2 separate regions of the Homo sapiens genome follow, and region 1 is linked to region 2. The links come from fine-mapping of genetic effects on gene expression. A gene starts in region 2. The other region holds a variant in brackets. All regions are shown on one strand. Distances are from middle to middle.

What was found.
Region 1: its variant is fine-mapped to the expression of GALM in whole blood (INTERVAL, PIP above 0.99).

The regions. Positions count from the first base shown.
Region 1 is chr2:38,692,469-38,708,871 of GRCh38, forward strand. All of the region lies in intron 4 of GALM (galactose mutarotase), which reads left to right. It overlaps LOC124905993 (a long non-coding RNA gene), which reads right to left. Exons shown (of 3, transcript XR_007086292.1): 2 at 4,769-4,902. Among named protein-coding and RNA genes, the nearest start is that of GALM, 35 kb to the left of the region's middle. RefSeq lists a silencer at 259-553. The variant T/C (reference allele first, on the strand shown) is at 9,371.
Region 2 is chr2:38,661,301-38,674,961 of GRCh38, forward strand. It overlaps GALM (galactose mutarotase), which reads left to right and starts at 4,814. Exons shown (of 7, transcript NM_138801.3): 1 at 4,814-5,051. The coding sequence starts at 4,862. RefSeq lists enhancers at 4,566-5,078, 5,079-5,591.

The DNA.
Region 1 (16,403 bases), 33 kb after region 2:
TTGAATCCCTAGGCTCAAGCAATCCTCCCACCTGGGCCTCCCAAAGTGCTGGGATTACAGGTGTGAGCCACCATGCTGGTCCTCATCTGACTCTTAACACTGATCAAAAGCCCATGAGCTTAATTTTGAAAGAAATCCAAAAGGCTTGCCCATCATTTGATCACTCAGAAGTGCTGCTGGGCTCTCTAGGAGTTGGCAGTCTATGGGAAGGGTCAGCCAGAATTGTGTCCATTAATCTGGAAAATATCAGGATAGACATAACTAGGAGACTTGGCACAGAGGGCAGGCACTGCTGAGGGGGCTTCCAGATAGAGGAAATGAGAGTTAAATAAAACCTGGAAGGGAAAGTGGAAGTTTGCCAGGGAGTGAGGAGGAGAAAGGTGTTCCAGATAAAGATGAACAAGCGTGGGCGGTGCAAGAAATAGCAGGACTAGCCCAGGGAAGTGCTGTGCTTTTGAAGCAAAGCATTTGGGGCATAATTTTAGTGGCAGAGAGTGGATGGGCCTGGAGAGGTTGATTGGGGCCATGTCAGATCTGTACCAGGCTCTGTGGAACTGCAATCCCTAGGGTGGCCCTGGGTGGCCCCAGGCTGGCCTGGAGCTCAAGGCCGATCCACATAGCTGACTCACAGGTGTGCCTGAGTCCAGTCTCAAACTTCAGCGTGTTCTGCCAGAGCTGGACTGAACCACAAGGCCACTTTCCTGAGACGTGCTACAAGAACCTGTTAGACCAGGTCGGGTGCAGTGGCTAATGCCTGTAATCCCAGCAATTTGGGAGGCCGAGGTGGGCAAATTACTTGAGATCAGGAGTTCGAGACCAGCCTGGCTAACATGGTGAAACCCTGTCTCTACTAAAAATTCAAAAATTAGCTGGGTGTGATGGTAGGCGCCTGTAATCCCAGTTACTTGGGAGGCTGAGGCAGGAGAATCGCTTGAACCCAGAAGGCAGAGGTTGCAGTGAGCCCAGATCACGCCACTTTACTCCAGCCTGGGAAACAGAGCGAGACTCTGCTTCCAAAAAAAAAAAAAAAAGAGAGAGAGAAAATAACCTGTTAGACCAGCCATACTCCATTAAGACTTCTCAAAATAAATATGCACTATCTACCGACTGTGGTTTTGTTGAATTGAGAAAAAGAAGATACTGATTATCTGTGAGATAAGGTGAAGCTTTATGATAATAATAGCTAGTATTTCAGGGAGGACTTTATAAATAATTCATACCACAAGCCTGTAAGGTAGGTTCTGTTCATTTTTCTTATTTAACAGATGTGAAAACTATAGAACAAGGAGTTAAAGTACCTTACAGAGGATGACCCAGTTAACAAGTTGGGGAAAGCCGGGATTCACACCAAGGTAGTCTGGTATTAGAACTCAGGCTCTTAAGTAGACCTGCACTCTACAGATCTTACAATGTGGTTAGATGTCAAGAAGGTTTGGTGCCAGGCACAGTGGCTCACACCTTTAATCCCAGCACTTTGGGAGACCAAAGATTGGTTGAGCCCAGGAGTTCAAGAGCAGCCTGGGCAACATAGGGAGACCCTGTTAATACAAAACATTTTTTTGAATTAGCCAGGAGTGTTGGTGCATGCCTGTGGTCCCAGCTATTTGGGAGGCTGAGGTAAGACAATTGCTTGAGCCCAGGAGGTCAAGGCTGCAGTGAGCTGTGATTGTGCCACTGCACTTCAATGTGGGTGAAGAGCAAGACCCTGTCTCAAAAAAAAAGAAGAAGATTTGGGAGGTAGGGGAGAGGCAGAAAGGAGTGAGGAAAGAAAGAAAAGAAAAGTAAATTAATTTCTTTACTATATAAATACCCAAGTGCAACATATAGTCAATAAATGAGAAGTAAGCCAAAACAAAGAACAGACTTTTGCCAGCTGTCAATCCTCAGCTCTTTTGCCACCTTTTGTACAGGGAGCCTCCCCAGTCCTCTCACTGTCTCCTCCTTGTTCCTTCCTCCCTTCAATTTATTTCTACTTTTCTGCAAAGAAAACAGGAAACCAAGTTTGTTTAAATTAAATATAAGAAAGGGAGAGAGAGAAAGAGGAAGGAAGGAAAGGAAAAAGGGAAGGAGGGAGAGGTTTTCTTGAAATTAAAGAGCATGAATTTAAGTGTCTGGCCTTGTCAGTCTGACAAGAAAGGGAAAGTCAGGCTGGGCGCAGTGGCTCAAGCCTGTAATCCCAGCACTCTGGGAGGCCGAGGCGGATGGATCACGAGGTCAGGAGATCGAGACCATCATGGCTAACATGGTAAAACCCCGTCTCTACTAAAAATACAAAAAAATTAGCCAGGCGTGGTGGCAGGCGCCTATAGTCCCAGCTACTCGGCAGGCTGAGGCAGGAGAATGGCGTGAACCCGGGAGGTGGAGGTTGCAGTGAGCCAAGATCGGGCCACTACACTCCAGCCTGGGCAACAGAGCAAGACTCCGTCTCAAAAAAAAAAAAAAAACAAAAAAAGAAAGGGAAAGTCAAGGGAAAGTCACCTCAGGTGTCATTGTTCTGTTGCAGCATATGGTGTTCCTGACAGATCCCTTGTCTTTCTGGTTCTTGGTTTTCTCATATGCAGAATCTTGTTATGAACAAGTTGTGTTGAAAGTTCACATTCTTTAAGTATGTATGTTGGTCATCTCTGTTGAAAATGATAGAAAAATCACCTTCGGTAGAAAATTTACAAACAGGCCGGGTGCAGTGTCTCATGCTTGTAATCCCAGCACTTCAGGAGGTGGAGGCGGTTGGATTTTTGAGCCCAAGACTTTGAGACCAGCCTTGGCAACACAGTGAAACCCCATCTCTACCAAAAATACAAAAATTAGCCAATCTCACAGCCCAGTCTCAAAATAAATAAATTAAATAAATAAATAAATAAAGTTTCAAAAAAAGAAAGCAAACTTACAGACACAGTTAAAGAAAAGCTGTACCATTTACAGGGTGGCGTTCAGCTATCTGGAGCAGTCCCTTATGGTGGGTACTTCATTTATCCTGGGGAGATGCTGGATAATGAGTTCGTTTTAGACCCTTTGCTCTACCTGGCTTTTCCTGGGGTGGCTGCTTGGTTGTGCTGAAACCCTCAGAAATCAACAGTAGAAAACTTCTCTAAAACAGCTTTGGCCTTTTTGCATATGAATGACTTTTACTGCGTAAATCAGTTATTTTGCTTACCATCCTAGTCCTCTGCTTTCCACCCCAAATCCTTGTTTATGTGTGTGTGGTTTTGTTTGTTTGCTTGTTTGTTTGCTTGTTTGTTTTTTGAGACGGAGTCTCACTCTGTTGCCCAGGCTGGAGTGCAGTGGCTCGATCTCAGCTCTCTGCAGCAACCTCCACCTCCCGGGTTCAAGTGCTTCTCCTGCCTCTGCCTCCTGAGTAGCTGGGACTACAGGCGCGCATGCCACCATACCCGGATAATTTTTGTATTTTTAGTAGAAATGGGGTTTCACCATGTTGACCAGGCTGATCTTGAACTCCTGACCTCAAGTGATCCACCCGCCTTAGCCTCCCGAAGTGCTGGGATTACAGGTGTGAGCCACCACACCCCGCCTGCGTGTTTGTTTTTTAAATCTCTCTTCTTAGGGTCATGAGATTTCTCATTAATTTCACTTAGAGCTCCTGGAGAGAAAAGCCTCTATTATTGTCACTATAACAGTAAAAAAAGTGTAGAGATTTTTTTTTTTCTTTTGAGACAGAGTTTCGCTCTTGTTGCCCAGGCTGGAGTGCAATGGCGTGATCTCAGCTCACTGCAACCTCCACCTCCCGGGTTCAAGCGATTCTCCTGCCTTGGCCTCCCAAGTAGCTGGGATTACAGGCATGTGCCACCACACCTGGCTAATTTTGTATTTTTAGTAGAGATGGGGTTTCACCATGTTGGTCAGGCTGGTCTTGAACTCCTGACCTCAGGTGATCCACCTGCCTTAGCCTCCCAAAGTGCTGGGATCACAGGCATGAGCCACTGTGTCCAGCTTTTCTTTTTCTTTTCTTTTTTTTTTTTTTTTTGAGACAGGGTCTCTTTCTGTTGCCCAAGCTGAAACAGTGACACAATCATAGCTCACTGTAACATCAAACTTCTGGGGCTCAAGCAATCCTCCTGGCTCCGCCTTCCAAATAGCTAGGATTACAGGTGCACATCACCATACCCAGGTAATTTTTTCTTTTTTTACACGAAAATGTCTCAACATGGATTTTTTTTTCTTTTTTGGCAGAGATGATGTCTCACTATGTTGCCCAGGCTGGTCTCAAACTCCCTGCCTCAAGCCATCCTTCCACTTTAGCATCCCAAAGTGCTAGGATTACAGGCGTGAGCCACCGCACCTACCCCCAAGAAAGCTTTTTTTTTTTTTTTTTTTTTTTTTTGAGACAGAGTCTTGCTCTGTCAACCAGGCTGGAGTGCAGTGGCGCGATCTCAGCTCACTGTAACCTCTGCCTCCCATGTTCAAGCAATCCTCCCGCCTCAGCCTCCCGAGTAACTAGAATTACAGGCACATGCCACCACGCCCGGCTAATTTTTGTATTTTTAGTAGAGAGGGGGTTTCACCATGTTGGCCAGGATGGTCTCGAACTCCTGACCTCAAGTGATCCACCTGCTGTGGCCTCCCAAAGTGCTGGGATTATGGGCATGAGCCACTGCACCCGGCCCCCAAGAACTCTTCAAATGCACCTAGTGTCACAAGAAAAGATAGTTAAACTGTGTCTGAAAAAGTGGCTTATGTGGGGAAATTTGTGATGGATTTAGGGAAACTTAGGGTAAATTTTAAACATAAGGCCTTTTGTCAGATCACCTACATTCCTCGGATTGTGCGTGGGTTTGTCGCAGGTGCTTGATGTGACAAATTACACAGCTTCTATTGCTTCATTTGATCAGCCGCCTGTTGACTTTCAGCCAAGTCCTGCAGGGTTGCTTCTCAGATTGTATCTTTCTGCAAGACAAAGATGTTTTCATAGTCTCTCTTTAACTTCTCCCTTTTGTGGCTATTAATTTATACTTATATGTTTTTCAACTCCTTATTTTTGTTTTCTCTTTATAAAAGTTTTAACGTGTGCTATTCTTGAGGGAAATACTGATGCATATCTAAACTTTAGGGGTGTTTTTCACCCTGGCTACAGACACTCGGTAAATAATTTTTCAGGTGATGGGAAAACACATCATCATGAGAATGTAGCAACTTTTATTTTGCAGTAACTGTTAAAATTGTGGCCACAGTGCTCAGTAAAAGGGGACCTTCCCCCTGTAGGTGTTTGGGGAGGAGTGACGTCCTGTCCTCCATTTTGTTAGTAACCCACTTATGGATGGGGCATTATCACCTAGAAAGAAAAGAGATACCATGGTATGCAGTTACAGGGAGCCAGAGCAAGAGCAAGACAAAGAAATTCCCTTACGTCTTCAATGCAGAGCCGGCATTTAGACCTCTACCCCAGGCAGGACCCACAAATCTTTGGCAGCCATGAGCACCTGTTTTGCTCCTGCCTTCTTCCTGTTGGCAATTTTGGGTTTTGGGGTTTTTTTTTTTTAGACAGAGTCTCACTCCATCACCAGGCTGGAAGTACAGTGGTGCAGTCTCGGCCCACTGCAGCCTCCGCCTTCCGGGTTCAAATGATCCTCTTGCTTCAGCCTCCCAATTAGCTGGGACTACAGGTGCGCACCACCACGGCCAGCTAATTTTTGTATTTTTAGTAGAGATGGGGTTTCACCATATTGCCCAGGCTGGTCTCAAACTCCTGACCTCAAGTGATCTGCTCACCTCAGCCTTTCAAAGTGCTGGGATTATATATATATTTTAAATAAATGAATAGAATTCATCACCTAACTTCTAAAGCTACCTCTGTAGATGAAATTCCGGCACTTAGGAGTCAGCAGTGGTGTATTGAGTGCATAGCCCTTGCTCACAGGTGCTTCTTTCCTGTCCCATGGCAGGTGGCACCAACAGAAGGTTTCTGCAAGGCTGAGAGCTCCTTTTACCCATGGACCAGGAGCAAAGTTTGCAGGTACACTGTCAGGCTGTGTTTGGATGTTAGCAGTTAATTTAGCTCTGCGTCTTCAGAGCAATTATTCTTAGCTACTTAAAAAAAAAAAAAGGAAAAAAATGACACCCATAAAGCATTTGCTGCTCCATAGGATGGGAGCACACTCTGTTGTTGGGCATATGAGTCCCTCTGGCATGTGTTTTCTATGTTTATTGTTGTCAGGGCTGTCCCTGTAATTTCCCAGAAGTAGAACTCCCTGAAGCTGTTTCCCAGAAAGGACAGGGGTGTAGATAATGGATGTCCAGAGACAGAGAACACTGCAGTGCCAGATCCCTGTGCTGCTTTGTCAGACATTTGTTTATATATTGTTTGTTTTTGAGATGGGGTCTCACTATGTTGCCCAGGCTGATCTTGAACTCCTGAGCTCTCAAGTGATCCTCCCACCTCGGCCTCCTAAAGTGCTGGGATTACAGGCATGAGCCACTGTGTCCAGCTGTTATTATTATTATTATTTTGAGACAGAGTTTTGCTCTTGTTGCCTAGGCTGGCGTGCAATGGCACATCCTCGGCTCACTGCAACCTCCGCCTCCTGGGTTCAAGCAATTCTCCTGCCTCAGCCTCCCGAGTAGCTGGGATTACAAACGCCCACCACCATGCCCAGCTAATTTTTGTATTTTTAGTAGAGACGGGGTTTCACCATGTTGGCCAGGCTGGTTTCGAACTCCTAACTTTAGGTGATCTGCCCACCTCGGCCTCTCAAAGTGCTGGGGTTACAGGCATGAGCCACCGTACCTGGCCCCAGCTGTTATTATTTTTAATTGATACCTAATACTTGATATCTAATACATATTTTATTGATACCTAATACATATTTACAGGGTACACTGGGATATTTTGATACATGTTTACAATGTATAAGGATCAAATCAGGGTAATTAGCATATCCATCACCTCAAACATTTATCATTTTTTTGTGTTGGGACATTCAAAATCTGCTGTTCTAGCTATTTGAAAATATACAATAAGTTGTTGTTAATTATAGTCACCCTATAGTGCTTTAGAGCACTAGCACTTATTCCCCCTATCTAGCTGTACTTTTATTAACATTAAACAACCTTTAGGCTGTGTGCGGTGGCTCATGCCTGTAAACCCAGCACTTTGGGAGGCCGAGGTGGACTGATCACCTGAGGTCAGGAGTTCAAGACCAGCCTGGACAACATAGCAAGAACCATCTTAAAAAAGAAAAGAGAAGAATATTTAAAATTTTCTTCACTGATCATTCAGGAGCATATTGTTTAATTTCTGTGTATTTGTACAATTTCAAAAGTTCACCTCGCTGTTGAGTTCTAGTTTTATTCCACTGTGGTCAGGAAAGATACTCGATATAATTTCAATTATTTTAAATTTGTTGAGACTTGTTTTGTGGGCTAACATATGGTCTATTCTGGAAAATGTTTCTTGTGCTGATGAAATAATGTGTTTTCTGAATCTGTTGGATGAAATGTTCTGTAAATGTCTCTTTGTTAGTCTAAAATGCAGGGTTTTTTGTTTTTTTGAGAGAGTCTCACTCTGTTGCCCAGGCTGGGAGTGCAGTAGCATGATCTTGACTCACTGCAACCTCCACTTCCCAGGTTCAAGCAATTCTCGTGCCTCAGCCTGCCAAGTAGCTGGGATTACAGGTGCCCGCCACCACACCCAGCTAATTTTTGTATTTTTAGTAGAGACAGGGTTTTACCATGTTGACCAGGCTGGTTTTAAACTCCTGGCCTCAAGTGATCCGCCCACCTCAGCCTCCCAACGTACTAGGATAACAGATGTGAACCACCGCGCTCAGCCTAAAGTGCAGTTTAAATCTAGTGTTTTGTTGTTGATTTTCTGTCTAGATGATCTGTTCAGTGCAGAGAATGGGGTGTTGAATTCCCCAGCTATTGTATTGGTGTCTATGTCTCCCTTTAGATCTAATAATATTTGCTTTATATTATGTATCTGGGCGCTCCAGTGTTGGGTGCATATATATTTAGAATTGTTACCTCCTCTTACTGAATTGATCCCTTTATCATTATATAATAACCTTTTTCTTTTTTTTAATCGTTTTTTACTTGACGTCTGTTTCATCTGATACAAGTACAGCTACCCTGCTTGCTTTTGGTTTCTGTTTGCATGGAATATCTTTTTCCACCCTTTCAGTCTATGTGTGTCGTTACAGATGAAGTGAGTTTCTTGTAGGCAACCGTAGTTGGGCCATGTTTTTTAATCCATTCAGCCAGTCTATATATTTTAAGGGGGGAAGTTTAATAAGTTTACATTCAAGATTATTATTGATAGGTGAGGACTTCTGTCATTTTGTTAATTATTTTCTGTTTTTTTAAATATATCCTTTGTTCCTTTCTTCCCCTCTTATTGTTCATCCTTGTGATTGGTGGTTTTCTGTAGTGGTAAAATTTGATTCTTTTCTCTTTCTCCTTTGTGTATGTGCTCTACCAGTGAGTTTTCTACTTTTTTGTGTTTTCTTGATAGTAATTATCATTTCACTTCCAGATGTGGGACTCCCTTGAGCATTTCTTATAAGGCTGGTCTAGTGGTGATGAATTCTGTCAGTTTTTATTTGTCTGAGACATGTCAGGCATTTAGCTTCAGGACCTGATTCTAGTTCCCTGCCCTGTGGCAACAAGTAGAAACAGATCCCTGGTACCCTGCTTAAGTATTACACCAGCTAGATGTGAGCAGATGAGAAAATCAAATCCTTCTATTTTGCCAGGGATTAATTCATTCTCAGGATTGTAAATATTACATTTCACCTTTCACCTCACAGAACTGTAGAATTAGGAGGTGAGCTGGGCAGCCTGCCCAGCAAGACATTATGATGTATACAATACAGTGCACTACTAAGGATGTGTCTTTAAAGGCATTTACAGCACACAGTTTTTTTTTTCCTTATAATTTTGCTGCTCTTTATTTGTAGTAGTAGATAAGGAATTAAGAAAGCAAAAATGAGTGCTTTGACTAGGTCTTTTGCCTTTGAAAGTAGCATTAGTAAAATCCCCTCTTCTTTTTTATTCTTATAAAATTTACCCAATTCACTCTGTCCCCCAGCCCATCTGTGTTCACTTGCTGTTCTTGCTGCTCTCAGTTTTTAAAAGCTTATTCTAAAATTACATCAAAGCAACCCCATTTTGACAAAATTAGAATTCTGGTAGGAAACGCTTGCCATGAGGCTGTGGAGAGAGGCCCAGCAAGACTTTTGTATTTTATTTCAACCTCTGTCGGTTAAACCTACAATTCGGCAGATGATATAATTACCTCCCTGGGGCAGGTCTCTATCTCTGCCTTGGAGAAATAGCAAAGTCCAAAGTAGTCTCCTCATTCAAAGATGTTGCAAACGAAGGCTGTTTTGATCTTTATGTATTAGCATTTGGGTGTTAA[T/C]CTTTCTGGAGCTCCTGACAGAAAATTCCTTTAAATTTATTATATAATTCTAAAATATTGGACATATTTGTTTCAAGCATCTGTCAGTATCCTTACTCTTTCCATTTCACTCCCCACTGCCTTAATTAGTCATCAGGTCCTACTGATTTTTAACTCCTAAGCATTTCTCAAATCTGTCTCCTCAGTATGTATTGTTGGTTATATAACTCCATCTCCATTTTCACTGTGCTGCTTTAGACTATCTTTTCTTGTCTAGATTAGTGCCTGGCTTATATTATGGGCTTCATAAAGTGGGATCAATGAATGAATGATTCATAATCTGGACAACTGCACTCTAACACCTAACTGGAAAAAAAAAAATCTTAAGATCTATCTTCCATGTAAAAGCATCTATCTAAAATGCAAATCTTACTTTGATAATCTCCAGGTTAATAAACCTCTTAGACGGCTCTCAGGCCTCCCCAAAACCATCTCTCATTTCACTGATCAAAAAAATAAAAATTTAAAAATTTTAAAACTTAAAAAAAAAATTGAACATTTCACTGGTCAAAAAACAAAAACAAAAATGATCTCCGAGCATGCCTCCCTCACACCCCACCCTGCTGTGCATCCCTTTCCCACCCCCAGCCTACAGAGACCACCCAATAACCTCTTCTTTGCTACATGACCCTTACCCTCCTTCTTCAAGAGTCATACTTTCTCCTTAGAAACTTTTCCCCCCACTTTCTGGAAACTGTAGATTCTTTCTTGCTTATGGTTTTTGTAATGACATCAGCCATTTAGAATTCATGATGTGGCCAGTCTCTGCTATCTGCCTCTCCACAGAGCTTGCTCAGATAATCCATCAGGATTTAGTCACAGATCCAAAGTAGGGAGCTAGAAGGGAGCTTCAGGCTTGGTCTCTTCGGGTTGAAGCTAGAAAACTAATCTATACTGAACACAAAAATGAAGCTGAGTAATAGCCAACCTATACATCCTAGGAATTAACTATTGCTTATTTTGCCCCCAGCCAGTCTCTCCACACTCCTCTCTCCTTTACATTTGTTTTAAACACTATATATATATATACACTTTATTTATATATATATACTTTTTATATATATATATATATAATATGTGTAATTTTTTTTTTAATTAGCTGGGCATGGTGGGGTGTGCCTGTGATCCTAGCTACTCAGGAGGCTGGGAGGCTGAGGTGGGATGATATGTGGGATTTTATATATATATATATATATATATATATATATATATATATTTTTTTTTTTTTTTTTTTTTTTTTTTTTTTTGAGACAGAGTTTTGCTCTTGTTGCCCAGGCTGGATTGCAATGGTGCGATCTCAGCTCACCGCAACCTCTGCCTCCCAGGTTCAAGCGATTCTCCTGCCTCAGCCTCCCAAGTAGGTGGGATTACAGGTATGCACCACCATGCCTGGCTAATTTTGTATTTTTAGTAGAGACAGGTTTCTTCATGTTGGTCAGGCTGGTCTCTAATTCCCGACCTCAGGTGATCCACCCACCTTGGCCTCTCAAAATGCTGGGATTACAAGCGTGAGCCACCGCACCCAGCCTTAAACACGGTATATTAGCCCAACACTGTGTGAGAACTGGGATTCAGAAAACCAAGATATAGGTCTCCGTTCTGCCATCCACTAGCTATGCTATGAGTCAGCCATGAAAATTCTCTGGGCCTCATTGACTGAATCTGTAAAATCTGACTTGATGAGGATTATATTCATTGAACTCTGAGGTCCTGTCCATTTCTTACACCCTGATTCAAAGACCGCACAGAATCTCTAACCCAGATATTCTTAACTAGGGTTCTTGTATGTCTGGGAAGATGATGAAAGAACTTCAAGGGGATCATGAGCTCTTTAAATTCTATATAAAATCCAAGGCTGGGCGTGGTGGCTCACGCTTGTAATCCCAGCACTTTGGGAGGCTGAGGTGGGCAGATTGCCTGAGATCAGGAGTTCGAGACCAGCCTGGGCAACATGTTGAAACCCCCTCTCTGTGAAAATACAAAAACAATCAGCTGGGTGTGGTGGCATGTGCCTATAGTCCCGGCTACTCAGGAGGCTGAGGCACAAGAATTGCTTTGAACCCAGGAGGCAGAGGTTGCAGTAAGCCAAGATCGTGCCACTGTGCTCCAACCTGGGAGACAGGGAGAAACGCTGTCTCAAAAAATAAATGAATAAATAAATAAATAAATAAAATAAAATAAAATAAAATAAATTCTATGTAAAATCCTTTGTGAACTTGCTGCATCACCTTGGCCCACAAAGGGGGTTTTCTTATCTTTTTTCCTCTTTCAAAGTAATGATAGTCTATGGTTGCCCTACTATGTATTCTCTTTTTATTATTTTATTATTTTTTTTTTTAGAGACAGGGTCTCACTCTGTTATCCAGGCTGGAGTGCAGTGGTGCAATTATAGCTCACTGCAGCCTTGGCCTCCTGGGCTCACGCGGTCATCCCACCTCAGCCTCCTGCATAGCTAGGATCACAGGCATGCCCCCATCATGCTCAGCTAATTTAAAAAATATTTTTTTTGAGGCTGGGCACAGTGGTTCATGCCTTTAATCCCAGAACTTTGAGAGGCTAAGGCGGGAGGATTGATTGGGTCCAGGAGTTCAAGAACCTGAGAAATACAGAGAGACCCCATTTTTACTACAAAAAAATAGAATCAAAAAATTAGCCAGGCCCAGTGGCATTCACCTGTAGTCCCAGCTACTTATGAGGCTGAGGCAGAGGATTGCTTGAACCCAGGGGTTCAAGGCAAATTGAGCTATGATTGGGCACTGCACTTAGCTTTGGTGACACGGCAAGACTCTGTCTCCATTAAAAAAAAAAAAAGTAAGGCTACAGATAAGAAAGTACTTGGACAACAGTAAAAAAGTTAAACTCATGACATTGGACCCTATGAAATGTGTTTACCCTAGAGCTGTTTATTGTATGATAGGTCCCTGCTAGATAGTATTCAAGGTTTAATGCAAAAACTCCAAGGACCTCTCTTGGTAGCAGTGGTATTCTTTAAGACGGCACATTACTGAATCCTTCCTGTAAAATGGTCACAAGATCATTTTTATGAGCCTCTAGAATAACTCCTGAAGCTACTCATGCTCCCTACTGGAAAACACATTACTGTTACAAGATTGGCAAACATGAACCAGCATGGTAGAAATCTGGCAGGAAGAAAGCTCAAAATTTAGCACTTGGCCAGGCGATGTGTAATTCCTGTGAAAATTGCAGGCTAACAGTCAGTGAATTTGTCAGAAGGGGAATTATTTGCTAGAGCTCTGACCACCACCCTTGGAGAGTTGATGGTTCACATCTACCCTTCCTCCAGCCCAGGTCTGGACAAGGGCTGCCTCTAGTTCATTCCTGGTGCATAGCCATCCTTAGTGGTCACTACATTCTGAAGGGGCTTAGTGGGACTGTGGGCCTTGGGCAACGGACCTGATGTTAACTCAAGTAAGTTCCCAGAGCAGATTTGTATTCAGTTCAGCTAACATTTATAGAGCACCTACTGATTGCTACATGCTGCCTGAGAGATAAAGAGGATGGAACACTGTCTCTGCCCTTGAGAAGCTCAGAGGGATGGGGAGAACCTAATGTGGTCAGAGCAGTTGTAGAGATAATGCCTGTGGGACTGAAGGAGTGTAGAAGCCAGGGTAGAAAGAGGATTCTCAAGATTGTCCTGAGCTGTGAGAAGCCTCTCAGTGTCTGTGAGGATCTAGCCACAAGGAGAGTGAGAGTACCAAAGCACAGAATGCAGGAGTGGTGATGACTGTTAAGCCAATAAGCCAAAGAGACAGTTGGGCAGAGCAAGGGCTAGGGTGCAAAATTTAAGGCAGCATCCACTCCCAGGGTCGTGCATGTGCAGGGTCAGCACCTGAGAGTGTGTGTCTTCTTAAATTTTGCACCCTAGGCACCTCATTTGCCCAGCCCTACAGTTGGGTACAGTCATGATTGTCTTTCTGGGCCATGCCGATGAGCTGGGATTTTTTTTATTTTTTATTTTTGACGGAGTCTTGTGCTGTCGCCCAGGCTGGAGTGCAGTGGCGCAACCTCCCCCTCCGGGTTCAGTGGTCCAACTTCCCGCTCTGGGTTCAAGCTATTCTCCCACCTCAGCCTCCCGAGTAGCAGGGATTACAGGCGTGCACCACCACATCAGGCTGATTTTTTTTTGAGACAAAGTCTCACTCTGTTGCCCAAGCTGGAGTGCAGTGACACGATTTTGGCTCACTGCAACCTCCGCCTCCCAGGTTCAAGCGATTCTCCTGCTTTACCTCCCAAGTAGCTGGGATTACACGTGCCCGCCACCCTGCCCAGCTAATTTTTGTATTTTTAGGAGAGACGAGGTTTCACGATGTTGGCCAGGCTGGTCTTGAACTCCTGACCTCGTGATCCACCCACCTCTGCCTCCCAAAGTGCTGGGATTACAGGCGTGAGCCACCACACCCAGCTGGAATTTTAACTTTAGATCATGGAGGGCTTTCAAGCATTCTAAGCTGGGAACTGACCTGTCAAGATTGGCATTTTAGAAATCTCACCCCAGGTTGGGCGTGGTGGCTCACACCTGTAATCCCAGCACTTTGGGAGGTCGAGGCAGGTGGATTGCTTGAGCCCAGGAGTTCGAGACCAGCCTGGGCAACATATCGAGACCCCATCTCTACAAAAAAAAAAAAAAAAAAATTAGCCAGGTGCGGTGGCCCACACCTGTAGTCTCAGCTACTCGGGAGGCTGAGGCTCAAGGATTCCTTGAGCCAGGGAGGTGGAGTTTGCAGTGAATTGTGATCCAGCCTGGGTGACAGAGGGAGATTCTGTTTCAGAAACAAAGAAATATCACCCCAGCAACTGTTCTGGTGGGACTTGACTGGAGACAGAGACCAGTTTAGATGCTGTTGTTGGAGCTGGGCACAATGGTGTGTACCTGTAGTCCCAGCTACTCAGGAGGCAGAGGCAGGAGGAACACTTGAATCTAGGAGTTCAAATCCAGTCTCGGCAACATAGTGAGACTCCATCTCTTTAAAAAAAAAAGGGGGGCGGGGGGGTCGCTATTTTAATAGTCCAAGCAAGAGATGAGACCCAAATTAAGGGTCAGGTGGAAGAAGGCAGTTTAATCATATTTAGGAGGTAAAACTCAGGAGGCCTGAATTGAATGCATAGATGAGGAAGCAGGAAGGCTGTGTGATGACCCCGGGACTCTAGAGCAGCTGCTGGGCAGTAGAGATGGGGATGTTCAGTGAGTTGTGAGTAGGGGAGGAGGGGGAGCTGGCATGGGGGGCTGGGAGAACTATGGATTTGATCTTGAAATATTTGAGGTTAGGGTGCCTGTGGGGTGTACATCTCCCCTGTACACCTGACCTTACACTTCCAGCAGCTGGATGCATGAGTGTGACGTTAGAGAAATGACAGCTGGAGGCATACATCAGCGTGTACTTTGTAGATTAAGCCACGTGGATTTACCAGAGAGGAATCATAGACTGAGGAGAGCAGTGGTCTGAGGACCAAACCCTGGGAAACTCTAGGAAACAACCACCAATATTTAAGGTCCAAAAAGGGTCTACCTTAAAGTGCCAAGGGAGATGGCCAGGGGTAGAAGGCAAAGAAGGAGAAGAGGTGTCTAGAAGTCTTGGAGTGACCAACAGTGTCAATACTCCAGGGAGTCAAGTGGCAGGAGACCTGGGAACCTGCATGGCTGTGGTGGTTGTTGTCCTGACCCCGTTTAAGAATGTAACAGAGTGGTCAGGGCAGAAGCCAGACTGTAACCGTTTGAGAAGTGACAAAAAGTGAGGAAAGATTCAGGAATATAGGCCAATAACTGGTTCCCAACTAGGCAGCTTTCTTGAATACAGAACCCTGCCAGGCACAGTGCCTCACGCCTATAATCCCAGTCCTTTGGGTAGCTGAGTCGGAAGGATCACTTGAGGCCAGGAGTTCAGGACACAGCAAGACCCCATCTCTACAAAAAAAATATAAAAATTAGCAGCCGGGTGTGCTGGCTCATGCCTATAATCCCAGCACTCTGGGAGGCCGAGGTGGGTGGATCACTTGAGGTCAGGAGTTCAAGACCAGCCTGGCCAAAATGGTGAAACCCTGTCTCTACTAAAAATAAAAAATTAGCGAGGCGTGGTAGCACACACCTGTAATCCAAGCTGCTCGGTAGGCTAAGGCAGGAGAATCACCTGAAGCTGGGAGACGGAGGTTGCAGTGAGCCGAGGTCATGCCATTGCACTCCAGCATGGGCAACAGAGTGAGAAACTGTATCAAAATTAAAATAAAATAAAATAAAATAAAATAAAATAAAATAAAAAAGCCTGGCATGGTGGCTTGCACCTGTAGTACCAGTTGCTTGGGAGACCGAGGCAAGAGTATCTCTTGAGCCCAGAGAGCTAGGGGCTACAGTGAGCTGTGATCACGCCACTGCACTCCAGCTGGGTGACAGAGCAAGACCCTGTCTCTAAAAAAATAAAAATAATAAAAATAAATAAAAAAGAATCCTGGGCCCCACCTCAGAGATTCTGATTCATTTGCTTTAGCACAGGGCCATGGAATCTGTCCCAGCATCCTAGAAGCTACCTCAGTGAGTTAACAGAAAGGACTGGTATTGAAAGTGCTGTCGCCTGGGCACAGTGGCTCAAGCCTGTAATCCCAGCACTTTGGGAGGCCGAGGCGGGCGGATCATGAGGTCAGGAGAGCGAGACCATCCCAGCTAACATGGTGAAACCCCACCTCTACTAAAAATATGAAAAATTAGCCAGGTATGGTGGCGGGCGCCTGTAGTCCCAGCTACTCAGGAAGAATGGCATGAACCCGGGTAGGCGGAGCTGGCAGTGAGCAAGATCATGCCATTGCACTCCAGCCTGGGTGATAGAGCGAGACTCTGTCTCAAGAAAAAAAAAAAAAAAAAAGAAAGTGCTGTCAACAAGCTGTGACAAAGAGAAGGCTCCTCTGTGAGGCAGGGAAGTGGGGTCAAATAACAGTTTTTTTTGTTTGTTTGTTTGTTTTTTGAAGGAGAGGAGCTGATTTAGGA
Region 2 (13,661 bases):
TGAGACTCTCAAAAAAATATATATCTATATATACGTAAGTCAAACTATTGAGTCAGGAAGCCGATAGTTGAGTAAGCAACAATAACAAAAATATACTCATGGAAACATAAGGAATGATTTGAGACAGTGGCTACTGAGTGCCCATTAAGAAGAACTGACAATAAACAATGTTGGAGTTCAGAGAACTGACAAAGAGAACAGGAGTGTGGTAATGGACCAACGTGACTGGAGAGAATCTTTTCCAGGTCTTTTTATAGACAAACTGTGACTCAGTTTTGTTATTATAACTCAGAGAATTTTCTCTGCATAGCAGCTTGTCAATAGCTTAAAACTTTGTGTTGTTTTTATTTTTATTTTATTTTTTGAAACAGGGTCTTGCTCTGTCACCTCAGCTGGAGTGCAGTGGTGTGATCATGGCTCACTACAACTTCAACCTCCCAGGCTCAAGCAGTTCTCCAGCCTCAGCCTCCCAAGTAGTTGGGACCAGAGAAGCCCACTACTAAACCCAGCTAATTTTTTTTTGAGACGGAGTTTCATTCTTGTTGCCCAGGCTGGAGTACAATGGCGCGATCTCCACTCACTGCAACCTCCGCCTCCTAGGTTCAAGCGATTCTCCTGCCTCAGCCTCCCGAGTAGCTGGGATTACAGGTGACTGCCACCATGCCCGGCTAATTTTTGTATTTTTAGTAGAGACAGGGTTTTACCATGTTGGTCAGGCTGGTCTCGAACTCCTGACTTCACGATCCGCCCGCATCAGCCTCCCAAAGTGCTGGGCTTACAGGCATGAGCCACCGTGCCCAGCCTAATTTTTTTTACTTTTAGCAGAGATGAGGTCTCGCTATGTTGCCCAGGCTGGTCTCAAACTCCTGGGCTCAAGTGATCCTCCTGCCTTGGCCTCCCAAAGTGCTGGGATTACAGGCATGAGCCACTGCGTCCGGCCTAGAGTGATTTTATGAAAGCAGGGTCTGACCCCTCCCAGGAACAACACACCTTGCCATTTCTATGTTGAATGAGGAGGTGGTGGCAGCCTCCAAGAGCTCAGATTTCCTCACGCCTGGCTTCCCAAGCACTCAGTTTTGGGGACTTACCTCTATCTGATAAGAGACAGACCTTGGCTGGGCACAATGGCTCACGCCTGTAATCCCAACACTTTGGGAGGCCGAGGTGGGTGGATTACCTGAGGTCAGGAGTTCGAGACCAGCCTGACCAATATGGTGAAACCCTGTCTCTACTAAAAATACAAAAATTAGCAGGGCATGGTGGCATGCACCTGTTAGTCCCAGCTACCCAGGAGGCTGAGACAAGAGAATTGCTTGAACCCGGGAGGCGGAGGTTGCAGTGGGCCGAGATCACGCCACTGCACTCCAGCCTGGGCAACAGAGTGAGACTCCCTCTCAAAAAACAAACAAACAAAAAACACACAAAAAAACCAGACCTTATTCTTCACCTGGCCACCCTGACACCTCCCCTTCTAGTTAGAGGAAATGCTATCTACTTCAAGTAATTCTCCTTTTTTTTTTTTGAGACAGAGTCTCTCTCTGTTGCCCAGGCTGGAATGCAGTGGTGTGATCTTGGCTCACTGGAAGCTCCGCCTCCCAGGTTCACACCATTCTCCTGCCTCAGCCTCCCGAGTAGCTGGGACTACAGGTGCCCGCCACCATGCCCAGCTAATTTTTTGTATTTTTAGTAGAGACGGGGTTTCACCATGTTAGCCAAGATGGTCTCAATCTTCTGACCTTGTGATCCGCCTGCCTCGGCCTCCCAAAGTGCTGGGATTACAGGCATGAGCCACCGCGCCTGGCCAGTAATTTTCCTTTTACATAAATGCCATAATCCCTTTTCCCTTTACCTTATAATCTCATCCTCAGGCCCTTACCCCAAAATAAAAATAAATACCTCCTGAAATTTGACAGTGCTTCATTTTCTAGATTACTACCTTGCATCTGACTTCCCTGCAGATGGAGAATTGCCCCTAGATTTAGGGGTTTTGTTTGTTTGTTTTTAAGTGCACAGATATTCCTTTAGAGTTTCACTGTGGGATAAAAATAGGATATTAGGGTGAGAAAAATCAAGGTTTGTGCCTGACAGTTGATTCAAGCACAAGGTAATGCTATTTGCGACAATATGTTAGTTAAACCCTTCAAAGGAAAATGAAATCAAGAAGTGTACTCCTTACATTTTTTTTTTTGAGACAGAGTCTCACTCTGTCACCCAGGCTGGAGGCAGTGGTGCAACGTCAGCTCACTGCAACTTCCGCCTCCCTGGTTCAAGCAACTCTCCTGTCTCAGCCTCCAGAGTAGCTGGGACTACAGGCACATACCACCATGCCTGGCTAGTTTTTTTTTATTTTTATTTTTAGTAGAGATGGCGTTTCACCATATTGATCAAGCTGGTCTCGAACTCCTGACCTCAGGTGATCCACCCGCTTCTGCCTCCCAAAGTGCTGGGATTACAGGCATGAGCCACCGCGCCCAGGCCTCTTTACATTTTAGGGAGACATCATGGTACATTCATTTTCTACCAAATGGAGTAAAAAGAGCTTCCGTAGAGACATTTAGCATTGGGCAGGCAAATACATTTATTTCCTTCTGTAACAGCATGTGCTTGGCAGAACACTGAGAACTGGAGGTTGAGAAAAAAAAAAGTGGTCTTCCTGCTCACTTTTCTAAGACATCCTTGCTAACACAGCATTGCCAAAGGGCTTGCGTGTGAATCACCACAAAGTTAAGTGGCTGATGAAACTGAGAGTTTATGAGAATTTCTGATGAAGCAGCACATAGGAGTGCCTGTCGGTTATTGTATGAGTGTGATGCAGTCTATAATTTGACTTGTTTGGGTCTTTTTATTATTATACGTTGAGCTTCACTGAAGCCTGTTGCAAGCTTTTTTATTTTTCCTTTGCTATCAGAATTCTTCTGCTTCATGATGGAGAATTGAGGCTTTATGGCAAGAATGCTAAATATACCTTAAATTACAGACAGAAGAAGCTGAGAGATAGTTATTATGTTTTATTAGCATCTGATTCCAGGCACATAATCCCAATTCTCATAATTTCCTAATCAAAGATGCATTTCATTTCTGCACTCACCCCAGTCTAGTTGGATACCCTCTGAAGTACCCAGGAACCAAGCCAAGAGCAGTATCAAGAAAAGATAGATGATTATGCAGATGGCTTGAGTAAAACTTGTCTTTAGGCTCCCAGCATCCTCCCACTTCCTAGGCTCAGTACTCCTCTAAAGTTGCCAGACTTAGCAAGGAAGTACATAGGTGCCTGTATGTTATCTCATTAAGGCCCTTAATAGCTTTATCTTAATCCTTCTGCCATCAGAGCCTATTTTTTTGGGGAAAAAAATTCAGATTACTCATCAAGCCTTAGAGCAATATTTCTCTAAATCTGGTCCCAGATAATCTGCAGAAGAATAACTTGGGAACATGAAAAATGCAGATTCCTGAGTTTCACCCTAGACTTCCAGAATTAGAAATTCCAGAGGTGGGGACTGGGAATATGCATTTTAAATGTCCTCAGCAAATTCTGAGACACAATCAAGCAAGACAATTATTTAATAACCTTAGTGTCTTTCCTCTCCAACTGTACATACCTGAAGACTCCATCCTACTTGTAGAAAAGGAGATAACAAAGGTTCAGTACCTGGCATTTACAAGGACCTCAATCAATACTTGTTCCCTGAATCCCTTCTTAAAGGAACTGTGGACTTCAGGAGCCAGAAGACACCAGAGGTCCCTTTCCAGTCCCTTGAAGTAAAATAAGTCTGAGGCTGTCTCTAATCACCTCCGCACACCGAGGGCCTAATCCATCTACCTGACCCTGTCTGGTCCAAGCTCCTCGAGGCTGGCACAGCTTTGGCCGTCAGGAGAGCCTTCTGGGCAGTGGCTCTAACAGAACCATGTCCAGGACTTCATCCGTGGGACAAAAAGAGTGAATCTTCAGTAAGTCTGTGTGCAGAGAAGCCTGAGATGATTTACCTCATTTCTAAGCTACTACTGTACTTTGTTGTTGTTGTTGTTGTTGTTTTGAGACGGAGTCTCGCTCTGTCACTCAGGCTGGAGTGCAGTGGCGTGATCTCGGCTCACTGCAAGCTCCGCCTCACGGGTTCACGCCATTCTCCTGCCTCAGCCTCCCGAGTAGCTGGGACTACAGGCCCCCACCACCACTCCCAGCTAATTTTTTTTTTTTTTTTTTTTTTTTTTTTTTTTTGTATTTTTAGTAGAGGCGGGGTTTCACCGTGTTAGCCAGGAAGGTCTCAATCTCCTGACCTCGTGATCCGCCTGCCTCGGTCTCCCAAAGTGCTGGGATTACAGGCGTGAGCCACCGAGCCGGCCAACTACTGCTGTACTTCTTACCCCCTGTATCAAAGAGTTAAAATCTAATTTTTTCCCAAGATCGGTCTCACTGTAAGTCTGCTATCTGTATTTTCCCATTCTTCGTCTGATAGCCACCGACATTAATGACCAGCTCATTACATGTTGAGGTGTGGGGAGATGGGGGTAGAACCCCGTCAACCCAGGATTCGAGTTTAGAAAGACTACAAGCCCCAAAATGCAATTTCACCTCCCAAAAACTACCATTCCCAACATGCAATGCAACCAGGACGAGCCAAGGAAAAAAAGTACAAGTGTGGCTGCAAAGTTTGCCCCTCTTGTTACCCTCAGGCAAATGATTGATTTAGAAAGGCCCCAGGGGCTATTTTTTGCAGGAACGGTCACTCCCTAAATCCAGGCAGGGAAAGGGAGGAGTCTGAGCCGAGTCACGCCCCTTCTCCTGTAAACTTGGGTCGCCTCTAGCTTAGCGAGCGCTGGAGTTTGAAGAGCGGGCAGTGGCTGCACACGCCAAACTTTCCCTATGGCTTCGGTGACCAGGGCCGTGTTTGGAGAGCTGCCCTCGGGAGGAGGGACAGTGGAGAAGTTCCAGCTGCAGTCAGACCTCTTGAGAGTGGACATCATCTCCTGGGGCTGCACGATCACAGCCCTAGAGGTCAAAGACAGGCAGGGGAGAGCCTCGGACGTGGTGCTTGGCTTCGCCGAGTTGGAAGGTGGGTTGAACTGTGCCCTGGGCTGCGAGCAGGCCCCAGGCCCACGCTACATACCTCCCGGATCTAGCGGGCCACTTGCAATGCGAGGGACCAAGGGGGAAAGTCGCCTAGCTTGGGACCGTCTGACTTGCAAGCGCATGCATCATAGAGGGCCGTGTGGCCATCCAGCATTTGGGAAAAACTGTAATAAATAAACTATGGCAGTTGGCCTCTGGTTATCCGTTCAGGCTTTGCCCCAGTTAACGTAAAAGGTCAGCTGATGGTATGATACACTTCAGCGATCCTGGAGCGATCTTTGAACTGCCTAATCTTTGAACTGCCTGATACCTGGAGAAGGCTGGAGAGGAAAGAGCAGGCAAGAGGGGGTGTGGCTCCCACTTCTTCCCTTCTGAAGAAGGAAATTCAAATACTTGCCTCTTCTACTTCCTTCTTCCTTGATCAGATTCTCTTTGAGGCCTGGTTGTCTCAGAAATGCTCCACTAAGCTCAGTGGTTGCCTAGTACACCAGCTACCCAATAACCATTTAGGAACAAAATAGAGAAGACCAACTCAGTGTCTTCTCAGAGATCAGGTCTCCTACCAACTAGGATGGACTTTTATCCCAGAATCCATGGGCAATTAGGATCAGGCATTAATTAATACATTTGACAACTCTATTAATCCGATGACCTCATTAAACAGGACAGACAAGGTCCCCACTCTTGCGGTTTGGCTGGGGAGATAGACTTTAACTCAGTAATTGCATAAATAAAGAATGACAATTGCAGCTTGATTGCAGCAAAGGAAAATGTACATCATGCTCTCTTAGCACCATGGTGTAACTAGACAGAAAATGAGGTGTGAAATAAAGCTGGCAAAGGGAAACTGAGAGTTAATACTCTCTGCTCAGTGGTTGGGGCGTAGACAAATTCTGCTGGAGAGGAGGTTTGAGGTTTTCCTTTTGGTGTGTCATTCTGTCTGTTTGGTTCTTCCGATACGTAAGATATGTAACTTGGCTCATGGTTACATGTTGGCCAGACCAGCCTGGCCAGCATGGTGAAACCCTGTCTCTACTAAAAATACAAAAAAATTAGCTGAGCATGGTGGCACGTGCCTGTAATCCCAGCTAGTCAGGAGGCTGAGGCAGGAGAATAGCTTGAACCCAGGAGGCGGAGGTTGCAGTGAGCCAAGATTGCGCCACTGCACTCCAGCGTGGGTGGCAGAGCGAAACTCTATCTTAAAAAACAGAGAGCAAATTTCAATTCCTCAGGGAAAAAAACAAAACTCAGCTTTCTGTTGAACACCACCATGCCCGGCTAATTTTTTTGTGTTTTTGGTAGAGATGGGGTTTCACCATGTTGGCCAGGCTGCTGGCGGGCACCTGTAATCCCAGCTACTTGGGAGGCTGAGGCAGGAGAATCACTTGAATCTGGGAGGCGGAAGTTGCAGTGAGCCGAGATTGCGCCACTGCACTCCAGCCTGGGCGACAGAGTGAGACCCCATCTCAAAAAAATAAAAATATACTCTAACCTTTCCCTCTGCCTTTCTGTGTAACAGCTGACCATAAAGAAATTAAGACCCTCATTCCAGAGGGGTCCTGCCCCATACCCGGAGGAAGAAATGCTGCATGGGGAGGCCAAGAAAAATCTGAACACAGGCCTTGCCGAGTTTCCCCACTCACTCTATTAGCAACAGATCTTACCCTTTTGGTCCAATCATATTTCTACATGGCTGTCCATGTTCCATTGGACCTAAGCATAGAAATGGATTGTTTTCCTTGTATCTGTCGGTCTTCATTCTGAAAGCTCCCGTGTCACATAAAACTATAATCAAATAAATTTGTTTGGCTTTTTTATGTATTTTTTATTTTTTAGAGGTGGAGTCTCGCTCTGTCACCCAGGCTAGAGTGGAGTAGTGCAATTATAGCTGACTTGCAGCCTCGAACTACTGGCCTCAAGCAATCCTCCCACTTCAGCCTCCCAAAGTGCTGGGATTACAGACATGAGCCACTGTGCCCAGCTGTTTTGCTTTTCTCTTGTTACCCTGTGTTTGTTGTAGAGGTGTGGGCTGTGACTCTTACAGGGGAGATATACAACACTCTGTTACTATTTTGATGGTGCTCTGATACTACATTTCTAGTGCATTAAAACCTATGTTAACAATAAACTGGTAACAGTGGTTGTTAAGAAAGGATCCTGGGTGCCCAGGGTGCAGAGGATGGGAAGGAGACTTAATTTTCACTGCATATTCTTTTAAACCATCAGAGTATGTAAGTATATATAAACAAACAGAGGTAAATAATTTAAAGTAATAAGACTTGACAGAGGCCGGCATGGTGGCTCACACCTGTAATCCTAGGAGTCCAAAGTGGGAGGATCGCTTGAGGCCAGGAGTTTGAGACCAGCCTGAGCAACATAGTGAGACCCTGTCTCTAAAATAAATAAAAATAAATAAATAAATAAATAAATTTAAATTTAAAAAAAATTTTTTTAAATACTTGACAGAATAAGGGGTTATCTTGACATTACCATATCCCAAAAATGGTTTTGAGCCATGCGGAAGATCTGAGCGTGGATAATTCCATGAGACATGGTCCTTTTGTAACTGCAGAGTTAGATATGAACAATCTTCAATTTCCCAGACAGGTTATATAAACTGTTTGGATGACAGCCATAACCAGAGGTCAGAATGGTTCAGTTTCTCCCTGGGAAAATGGGATTTTTTTCTTTCATAGAATTCTAAAGAAGAAAATTATATAAATTTTTAGTTACAGTAAGAGAGGAGACCACCCCTCATATTGCCTTATGCCCAATTTCTGCCTCCAAAGAAAGAAGTAAAAACTAAAAGGCAGAAACGAAATCCACAGGCAGACAGCCCGGCACTACGCCATGGGCCTGGTAGTTAAAGATCGACCCCTGACCTAACCAGTTATGTTATCTATAGATTCCAGACATTTTATAGAAAAGCAGTGTGAAAATCCCTGTCCTGTTGTGTTCTGTTCTGATTACCGGTGCATGCAGCCCCCAGTCAGGTACCCCTGGCTTGCTCAATCGATCACGACCCTCTCACGCAGACCCCCTTAGAGTCGTAAGCCCTTAAAAGGGACGGGAATTGCTCACGCGGTGAGCTCGGCTTTTGAGACGCAAGTCTGCCTTCTTCAATCCGGTGTCTAAGGAGTTTTGTCTGCGGCTCGTCCTGCTACAACAGCCTAGAAAAATCAGTAATGCCTCCTATGAGTTTTTCAACCTTTTTTTGTATTTAAAAATGTTTTTTGCCGGGCACGGTGGCTCACGCCTGTAATCCCAGCACTCTGGGTGGGTGGATCACAAGGTCAAGAGACAGTGACCATCCTGGCCGACATGGTGAAACCCATCTCTACTAAAAATACAAAAATTAGCTGGGCATGGTGGCGCATGCCTGTAATCCCAGCTATTCAGGAGGCTGAGGCAGGAGAATCACTTAAACCTGGGTGGTGGAGGTTGCAGTGAGCCGAGATTGTGCTACTGCACTCCAGCCTGGTGACAAAGCAAGACTTCATCTCAAAAGAAGAAAAAAAAAGTTTTTCTTTTTTTTTTTTTTTTTAGTGCAGTGGCGCTATCTCGGCTCACTGCAGCCTCCACCTCCTGGGTTCAAGCGATTCTCATGCCTTAACCTCCCAAGTAGCTGGAATTACAGGTGGGCACCACCACACCCGGCTAATTTTTGTATTTTTAGTAGAGACGGGGTTTCACCATATTGGTCAGGGCTGGTCTCAAACTCCTGACCTCAAGTGATCCACCTACCTCAGCCTCCTAAAGTGCTGGGATTACAGGTGTGAGCCACCACGCCCAGCCTAAAAATATTTTTCATCGGCATGTCCCACCTACAGTCATTATGATTTCTTTCAAAGCCTGTGCTGAAAATATTTGCTTATAAGCCACAGGTATAAACAACCTACCCATACAATCATTGAAACGCCTTCCTTTTCATGTTTCCCCCAGTTGCCACCAAAGACCTGGCTATTAACTGCCATGAGAGGCATTAAGGAAAAAATAGAAAAAGTAAATTTAGTGCCTTTAGAAAACCTGGGTTCAGAAGCAGGGATGAGGAAAAAAAAGGATCAGGTTAGAGGCTGCAGTTTATTGTCGCTCACGCCCAGGAGCACCCTGGTGGGAGCATTGAAAATTCCTGGTTTAAAGTTCTGCTTCCTTCCTTAAAGCTGTGCGACCCCGGGCAATTTACTTAAACTCTCCAGACCTATTTTCTCACGTGAAACAAATGGATTGTGATGATTTAATGAGCCATGGGCTGTGATATGTGTCTAACCATATCTGACCACATATTTGATACGTCTCTGATCAGAGGGAGCAACTAATCATTTTTATCCCCTTTCTTTCCTTTGCCCCCAAATACCATCTCTGACTCTACTAGAACTTTTTATTTCACTTAATTAACACTGCAAAAAATGGCATGGAGATTCAACTAGGACAGCAAGCAGCCACTAAAAAGTATATAAATTATCTGAGATTACTAAAGTGCTTATTAATTAAATTGTTTTCTTCATATAACCAAAGGATAAGTCATTCTGTGAATGGGGGTTTTGATTGAGAGTGGTGAGTAATTTTATTTCAGACTTTAGTGCACTCTGGCTAATTTTGGGCTGTCCAAATTGGGTGTCACAGTGTGGTCCTTGGGTTGTTAGAGGAGTGGAAAGGGCCATATCCCATGATTAAGCATTTATTAATTTATTCTCGCCAGTGCCTTGCCCAGGAAAGGGGGAAGCGTTTCCTCTACTCTAAGCTCAGCAATTGACTTGGTTAAATCAATATTCATGGCTTGACCTAGGAACTTTGAACATTTTCATGAAAAATAGTATTTTCTGCATTTCAAAACAAATTTTTAGCCATGCCTTATTCGGGATTTGGGGATTGTCACTTTTGTAATTCCGATTTGATGTGAAAGCTTAGTAACTATTAGTCCACTGCTATAGAAGAACTGCCTGAGACTGGGTAATTTATAAAGAAAATAGGTTTAGTTGACTCACAGTTCCTCATGGATGGGGAGGCCTCAGGAAACTTACAATCATGGCAGGAGGCGAGGAGGAAGCTAGACAGATCTTACACGGCAGTAGGAGAGAGACAGAAAGGAGGGGAAATTGCCACTTTTAAATCATCAGCTCTCGTGAGAACTCACTGACTATCACAAGAACAGCATGGGGGAACCGCCCCCCTGATCCAATTACCTCCACCAGGTGGGATTACAATTCGAGATGAGATTTGGGTGGGAGCACAAAGCCAAAGCGTATCAGTAACATTTGAAGGTAGTATAAAATTTATTTGTTCTAAAGGGTTTTTCAGAGACAGGATTTCTGCTGTGCTTAAATTCTTAAAAACTATTCCTCCAGGGGCACAGTGGCTCTCACCTGTAATCCCAGCACTTTGAGAAGCCTAGGTGGGAGGATCACTTGAGCTCAGGAGTTCAAGACCAGCCTGGGCAACACAGGGACACTCTGTCTCTAGAAAAAATACAAAAAGTATCCAGGTGTGGTGGCGCATGCCTGTAGTCCCAGCTATTTGGGAGGCTGAGGTGGGGACCTGAGCCTGGAGGTCAAGGCTGCAATGAGCCGTGATGGCACCACTGCACTCCAGCCTAGGTGACAGAGAAAGACCCTGTCTCAAAAAAACAAAAACAAAAACAAAAAAAACCCTGATAATTATGGGGAAAAAAAAAAACAACAAAAAAACCCTATTCCTCCAAACCAAGGAACTGGCCTGGCAAGTGCTTCTTATCTTCATGACGTGATTGGTTTTGGGTAGTGGTCACTTGTAAGGGAATTCTTGCAAGCCCATGTGGTAGGAGCCCTGCTGTTGGCTTTGTGGTTGTCTCCAACACCCAGTGTGCCTCTGGCAGAGAGCGGGAGCTCAGTGTTCACTTGTTGAATGAATCAAAGTAGGACTCAAAAATCTCTACAGTCAAACATCTTGTTTTTTAGAAAAAAAATTCTGCTTTTCTATAATTTTTGAGCTTCTGAAAAGCGGATGAAACAAAACCAAGGAAAGATTGTTTGGCTCTTTGGGACTCCTTTTGGTTAACCAGTGTATGGGCTTTTAAAGCTATTTTCAGAAAGAGAAGAAGGTGGGGAGAGGTGGGAATAGGAGAGAGAGAGATCAGCCTGGCCTGTGCCTAGGGATGGAGGTAAGGTTAATAACCAGAAAGCCTGCGCTTTTCACATAATTTGATACTGAAGAACATGGACTCATGAGCTAGACTGTCTGGATTCAAGTCTTGGTTCTGCCACTACTTAGCTGTGTGTTTTGGGGCAAGTTATTTAACTTTTCTGTCCTCAGTTTCCACATCTGTAAATTGGGATAGTAATAGTGTCTACATCATAGAAACGTTCTGAGTATGAAATGAAGTAAATGTAGAGCACTTAGAAAGTGGCTGGGACACACTTTGGGAGGCCAAGGCAGGTGGATCACCTGAGGTCAGGAGTTTGAGACCAGCCTGGCCAACATGGTGAAAACCCATCTCTATTAAAAAAAAAAAAAAATTTAGCTGGGCTTGGTGGCGGGCACCTGTAATCCCAGCTACTTGGAAGGCTGAGGCAGGAGAACTGCTTGAATCCAGGAGGCGGACGTTGCAGTGAGCCAAGACCGCACACTGCACTCCAGCCCAGGCTATAAGAGCAAAACTCCGTCTCAAAAAAAACACAACACTCAGTAAGTGTTAGCTATTATGATAGTCAATGGGCAACACTCTGATGCACCTGCAGATTAGCAAAGAAGCAAACCAGGAAAGGCCTGGAAGAGAAGGATTAATGTTTAATTTGTACCCAACCAGTTGGGTAATGGAAACCTGTGACCTGTAACTGGCCTAATCAGCTCAGGGTCTGTATCCTGAGAGCCTCTCCATCCCTTGAAAAAATAGTTCATATGCTTGAATTGCATTCTCTGCTGATCTGAAGTAGACATGACAGATACAGAGTACCACGGGAAAAGGGAATGGAATTCAGAGGACATCTAAGTGAAAACTAGAGTGGAAAGTAATCTTGGTAATAATACAGAAAACAATCTCCAGACCTTAATCTTTTCCATCGTAAAGTAAGCACAGAGGAATTTAAAGAGAAGAAAAGTACCATAATATGCCCACGCCCAAAGTTGTAAGTATGAGGACGCTACTTTGCTTTTTACAGCCCCTCCCCTAAAAAGGCCCCAAACAGTTTATGCTGATTATTATACCATGTAGCCATCAAAAGTAATATGGGGCCGGGGCGGGTGGATTACAAGGTCAGGAGATCGAGACCATCCTGGCTAACACGGTGAAACCCCGTCTCTACTAAAAATACAAAAAATAAGCCGGGCATGGTGGCGGGTGCCTGTAGTCCCAGCTACTCGGGAGGCTGAGGCAGGAGAATGGCGTGAACCTGGGAGGCGGAGCTTACAGTGAGTTGAGATCGTGCCACTGTACTCCAGCCTGGGCGACAGAGCGAGACTCCGTCTCAAAAAAAAAAAAAAAGGGAACTCAAAAAAAAATAAAAAGGAATATGGTAGATATGTCATGACATGGAGCAATCTGAAGATATTTGATAAATGAAAAGTTGCAGAACAATGTACGATTATAGTGTGATACTCTATGTAGTATGATTCTCTTTATATGGAATATGTGTGTTTGTGTATTTATATATTTGCTAATATGTAGTTAATTCAAATTTTTAAATGAAGTGTACGTGCCAGACTGTTAATAGTGGTTACCATTGGAAAGGAGGGGAGTGGAGAGGTGAAGGAAGGCTTTTGTGTTTTAGTCCTTGTTTAGGTTGCTAGACTTCACAAATAAAAGTACAGGATGCCTGGTTAAATGTGGATTTCAAATAAACAGCTTATACTTTTTTTTTTTTTTTTTTTGAGACAGTCTCGCTCTGTCGCCAGGCTGGAGTGCAATGGCATGATCTTGGCTCACTGCAACCTCTGCCTCCTGGGTTCAAGCGATTCTCCTGCCTCAGCCTCCCAAGTAGCTGGGACTACAGGCACAGGCCACGACACCCAGCTAATTTTTGTATTTTTAGTGGAGACGGGGTTTCACCGTGTTGGCCAGGATGGTCTCAATCTCTTGACCTCGTGATCCACCCTTCTCAGCCTGCCAAAGTGCTGGGATTACAGGCGTGAGCCACCGCGCCTGGACACAACTTTTAAAGTATAAGTATGTCCCATGTATAATAATAACATGAACAAACTTATACTAAGCAATTATTTGTTGTTTATTTGAAACTCACATTTAACCAAGCATTCTATATTTCCTCTGGCAAACCTACTCTATATCCTTGTGTATTACCTAACTCTCTCTAAAGGATATTTTAATGTACTAATTATGTGATTTAAAAAAATAAGAAGAGAAAGAATAAGATCGCTTCCCCTCAAGACCACACGAAAGTATAACTTTGGCCTAGAGAAAAGGAGATTACAAAGCAGTGTTATACAGTCCCCCTTCAACCATAGTTTTGCTTCCTGCAGTTTCAGTTACTCAGAGTCAACTTTGGATTGAAAATAGGTGCATACAGTACAATAAGATGTTTTGAAAGAGAGAAAAGCCTGGGCACAGTAACTCATGGCTGTAATCCCAGCACTTTGGGAGGCCGAGTTGGGCAGATCACCTGAG